Linked DNA regions of Homo sapiens: region 1 is linked to region 2. The links come from fine-mapping of genetic effects on gene expression. A gene starts in region 2. The other region holds a variant in brackets. All regions are shown on one strand. Distances are between the middles of the regions. Region 1 overlaps EPRS1 (glutamyl-prolyl-tRNA synthetase 1). Region 2 holds the start of EPRS1 (glutamyl-prolyl-tRNA synthetase 1).

Region 1 (2,500 bases), 46 kb before region 2:
AAGTTTTTCAAGAACACATACTAACTTATAGCATAACACCAGTTATCTTTCTAGGATATGTAAAAAATGATAGGCACAGATGGGAACTGGAACCAATGAGGGAAAAGCAACCAAATTTCCCATCTCATGCTTACTCCATGAGTTATTGAATAATATATAGTAGCAATTTTCAAGGTGTGGTCCACAGACCCCAAGGGGTATATAAAACCCTTTTAAAGGGGATCTGCAAAGTCACAGCTATTTTCACTATATTACGATGTATTTTGTCTTTTTCGCTCTCATTCTCTCATGACTGTTTGTACAGGTTTTTAGAAGCTATTAAGTCAGATATTAAAGAGATCTGTAAAAATTTAAAACCATACCGCTCTTTTAACTAAAATTTTTATTTTGGAAAATTTTTTTTAATAAAAACTTTTCGTATGTTAACATGTAACTGGATTTATTATTTTTACATGAATTAAATCCTTTTAAAACTTCTCAATTTTTAGTATGATAAATGCTGATAAATATAACCCACATAAGCAAATCATTCTTAAGAGTATAAGGGGTCTGGCCAGGCACGGTGACTCATGCCTATAATCCCAGCACTCTGGGAGGCCGAGGTGGGAGTTTCACCTGAGGTCAGGAGTTCAAGACCAGCCAGGCCAACATGGCAAAAGCCTGTCTCTACTAAAAATACAAAAATTAGCCGGGCGTCATGGTGCACGCTTGTAATCCCAACTGCTCAGGAGGCTGAGGCATGAGAATTGCTTGAACCCGGGAGGCGGAGGTTGCAGTGAGCCCAGATCGCGCCACAGCACTCCAGCCTTGGGTGAGAGTGAGATTTTAAAATCTTACATGAAAGGATAACAACAAAATGCAAAGAGCAAGACTTAACTGTCTTCTTCAGTCTCCACAGTAAGAAAGATAATCATCTGTAAAGAAATATATTCTAAACCCTGGGATAGAAAGACCATTTATTTTTATACACATATCCGTAAAAGTCATTACCTCATTTTTTGTGGCTTCTACTTTGGTCTTTTCCTTTGACCCTGATGTTGGCATTTCCTTTGTGTGCCCATCAGGAATGTATATCAAAACACACGGGGCTTCCTTGCAACTATATGGGCTAAAAAGAAAATAAAGGGACAAAATAGTTTATTTGAACAAAATTATCTGAACAGCAATAAACACTGAATTCCTAGATAAATTCAATGGCACTAAGTTAATGCTTTTCTTTCTTTTTTTCTTTCCTTTTTGAGACAGTCTCA[C/T]TCTGTCGCCCAGGCTGGAATGTAGTGATGTGATCTAAGCTCACTGCAGCTTCCACCTCCTGCGTTCAAGTGATTCTCCTGCCTCAGCCTGTAAGTAGCTGGGATTACCAGCCACATGCCACCACACTAATTTTTGTATTTTTAGTAGAGCCTGGTCTTGAACTCCTAACCTCAAGTGATCCGGCCACCTCAGCCTCCCAAAGTGCTGGGATAACAGGTGTGAGCCACTGCACCTGTCCAGTTAATGCTTTTTGAAGTATAAAATAGTCCATTGTCTTACTATTCAAATCAGAGGCTCTTCAGAATAGTTTTACAAACAACAAATGCATAAATAAAAATTGACAGTCTTGGCCGGGCGCAGTGGCTCACCCCTATAATACTGGCACTTTGAGAGGCCAAGGCGGGTGGATTGCCTGAGTTCAGGAGTTCAAAACCAGCCTGGGCAACACGGTGAAACCCCATCGCTACTAAAATACAAAAAATTAGCCAGGCGTGGCGGCGGGTGCCTGTAGTCCCAGCTACTCCAGAGGCTGAGGCAGGAGAATCACTTGAACCTGGGAGACAGAAGTTGCAGTGAGCCAAGATCACACCACTGCACTCCAGCCTGCGTGACAGAGTGAGATTCTGTCTCCAAAGAAAAAAAAAAAATTGGTCAGCCGTGGTGGCTCATGACTCTAATCCCAGCACTTTGGGAGGCCAAGGCAGGTGGATTACCTGAGGTCAAGAGTTCGAGACTAGCCTGGCCAACATGGTGAAACCTGTCTCTACTTAAAAAATACAAAAATTTAGCCAGGTATGGTGGCGGGCGCCTGTAATCCCAGCTACTTTGGAGGCTGGGGCAGGAGAATCGCTTGAACCCAGGAGATGGAGATTGCAATGAGCTGAGACTGCATCATTGCACTCCAGCCTGGGCAACAGGAGAGAAACTCTGCCTCAATGGAAAAAAAAAAAGAAAAAAAATTGACAGTCCTTATTACAAACTTCCAATCTATGAACTTTCGTCCATATGAACAAACTATGTCCAGGGCAAAATTATATCTGCTATGCCTGCCACTAGAAAGGGCGTTAGTGAATGTTAATGATACTCTTGACTTCAAGAAAATTTGTCTACATACCACACCTAATCTGCTTATAAGCAGAAAAATTTCTGTAAAACATTTATTTATTTTAAAATATTTAAGGGTGGGTATGGTGGCTCACATCTGTAATCCCAGCACTTCGGGGGGCCATGGCAGGTGGATCTCTTGAGC
Region 2 (2,985 bases):
GAAAAAAAAAAATCGGCAAACTACTTAAATTCTTCTGTGTAATTTCCCAAAGTAATGAAAAAGCAGAAATTCTAAGCAATCTACCAACAATAATCTTGGTCATGTCGAAAAAATAATTCCAAACAGAACTTAAGATGTGTCAGTAAGGTGACAGATCCAATGTTTACTCTGAAATTTACTACACATCCACAGGGTGCAGTAAAAGCAACCGCATCAGTCTACAGTGTACCTGGGTGTTTTCCCCAATTACCCTACCACATTTAATTAAAAATAAATGCAGCCTCAGTTGAAATCCTAAATGCTAATATGCTCGTCTGGGTTATTTCTTCTGAACTCGATAAAACGTAAGGAAAATTTGACTCAAGTGAACTGAGGATTTCTCCTGAGAGGAGGGACAGGACAGGAAAGGAGGTAAGAAAAGGAGTTGGGGGAAAAATGCTAAAAGAGAAGCGACGACTATTGGATTTTAAGTTTTAAAATCTTATTTCCACGAGCAACTCTCGCTCTCCGGGGGAAAAAGGGAGAGGTGAGTTGACTGGGAGTTCATCCCTCTGAGAAAAAGATCCGAAGCGGAGTCTCGTGTTGTCTAGCCCGGGCTCACACTGCGCCTCCCTCCATGCCCGGGAAAACCATCTTCAGGAGCAGATGCACCTGCCGGGGACACGGGGCGAGGGGTGCGGAGCCTCCTCCACGTACAATTCTGGGGCGAGGGGCAGGTCCAACATCCCAGATGGTGACCACCACTGCGCAAAGCCGGGGCGCAGCGACCTTCCACGCCCTGCACCCTCCCTGGCTGATGCAACCCACACAGGTCATTGGTCTCGGCCCCTTACCTAGCGGAGGGTCTCCTGAATTCACGGTCAGAGAGAGCGTCGCCATCTCCACCAGTCCGCTGGTCCACCTGTCAGTACGCCTGGCTCGTGCCAGAACTACGGAGGACCCCGCGAAAGGAAGAAGATGCAACGTGTGCGCGTACCCGACGCCGCCGCAGCCTTCGCTCCGCCCCTGCGCCGCAGCTACTGCCGACACCGCGCACGCCGCGGTGCGACATCGTCGCGCGCCGTCTTCGTCCCCGCCCGCAGGTTCCAGAGCCTGCTACCCCTCCTCTTGGCCGCCAGGGTTAGAACGGCCTGCGTGGCCTTTCGTGCTGCGGTGGGAAAGACGCTGAAGTGGACGGGACTTTACGACACTTCGTCAAGTCAGCAGGTCGTAAAACAGCAGGTTGTAAAACCATCTTTAAGATGGGATAGGCGTTTATGTGAAGCACGAAACAAAAGCATGCACTGTCTTTATGTAAAAAGAAAAGTCCTGGAAGCATACACACGATAGCCATGATTACGTTGGGAATGGGAGAAGTTTTTCTCGTTGTTTATTTTATACATTCCCCCCCGTTTTTTTTTTTCCAAAACAAGAACGTATTTTCAAGAGTTATTTGCGTGTTGAAAATAATGGTTAAAGGAAATATAAAAGACTCTTTAAAAATCACTGCAGGCCGGGCGTGGTGGCTCACGCCTGTAATCTCAGCACTTTAGAAGGTGTAGGCGGGCGGATCACCTGAGGTCAGGAGTTCGAGACCAGTCTGGCCAGCATGGTGAAACCCCATCTCTACTAAAAATACAAAAATTAGCCTGGCATGGTGGTGGGCCCCTGTAATCCCAGCTACTTGGGAGGCTGAGGCAGGAGAATCGCTTGAACCTGGGAGGTGGAGGTTGCAGTGAGCCGAGATCGTGCTACTGCATCCAGCCTGGGCGACAGAGTGAGACTCCTTCTCGAAAAGAAAAAAAAAAAAAATCACAGCAGAGGCCGGGCGCGGTGGCTCAGGCCTGTAATCCCAGCACTTTGGGAGGCCGGAGGCGAGCGGATCTCGAGGTCAGGAGTTGGAGACCAGCTTCACCAACATGGTGAAACTGTAGAGACGGGGGTCTCTACTAAAAGTACAAAAATTAGCCGGGAATGGTAGCGCGCACCTTTAATCCTAGCTACTTGGGGAGCTGAGGCAGGAGAATCGCTTGAACCCGGGAGGAGGAGGTTGCGGTGAGCCGAGATCGCGGCACTGCACTCCAGCCTGGGCGACAGACTGAGACCCCGTTTCAAAACAAACAAAAAATCACTGCAGATAGGCGCAGTGGCGCGCTCCTGTAGTCTCAGCTATTAAGAAGGCTGAGGCAGGATCGCCTGAGCCCAGGAAGATGAGGCTGTAGTGGCCTCGCCGTGGACTTGCCTGTGAGTAGCCACTACCCTCCAGCCTGGCCGACACAGGGAGAGACCTGATCTAAAAAACAAAACAAAAAAACCCTCCGATGCCGCCCCCAATCATGGAGTCCACAGGTGTTTTTTTCAGCGTCTCATCTGATTCTCCCTTTCAAATCCTTTGTGACGGACGTGCATGCATGAGCTCCAGAGATACTCCAAGGTGTATACACACATTCGTGTGTGTGAGCTGCACCCATATTTCAAGGGCTGGTGTTAAAGTACGGGGACCCGGGATGGATTCCAAGAACCATCTCAACCACATCCTCGCCTACACTTTTTCTTAACCTCCCCAAGACATCCTTGTTTTCATTAGGGAGGGCCCCTTAGATTACATCTCCCATGAGACTTGAGGCCAGGCGCGGTGGCTCATGCCTGTAATCCCAGCACTTTGGGAAGCTGAGGCGGGCGGATCACCTAAGGTCGAGAGTTTGAGACCAGCCAAGCCAACATGGAGAAACCCCATCTCTAGTAAAAATACAAAAAAATAGCTGGGTGTGGTGGTGCATGCCTGTAATCCCAGCTACTCGGGAGGCTGACGCCAGAGAATCGCTTGAACCTGGGAGGCAGAGGTTTCGGTGAGCTGACATCACGCCATTGCACTCCAGCCTGGGTAACAGGAGCAAAACTTCATCTCAATAAAAAAAAAAAAAAAAAAAAAGAAGCCTACTTTCAGGATAGTGGGACTTATAGCAGAAAGTCTTAGGTCTTAGAGTTACCATCTTGTTGGATGCT

What was found. PIP is the estimated chance that this variant, and not a neighbour inherited with it, causes the effect.
Region 1: its variant is fine-mapped to the expression of EPRS1 in whole blood (TOPMed, PIP 0.98).

The regions. Positions count from the first base shown.
Region 1 is chr1:220,000,148-220,002,647 of GRCh38, forward strand. EPRS1 (glutamyl-prolyl-tRNA synthetase 1) reads right to left here. Exons shown (of 32, transcript NM_004446.3): 17 at 991-1,108. Among named protein-coding and RNA genes, the nearest start is that of EPRS1, 45 kb to the right of the region's middle. The variant C/T (reference allele first, on the strand shown) is at 1,251.
Region 2 is chr1:220,045,510-220,048,494 of GRCh38, forward strand. EPRS1 (glutamyl-prolyl-tRNA synthetase 1) reads right to left here and starts at 996. Exons shown (of 32, transcript NM_004446.3): 1 at 834-996. The coding sequence starts at 879. RefSeq lists enhancers at 149-706, 748-1,077, 1,138-1,207.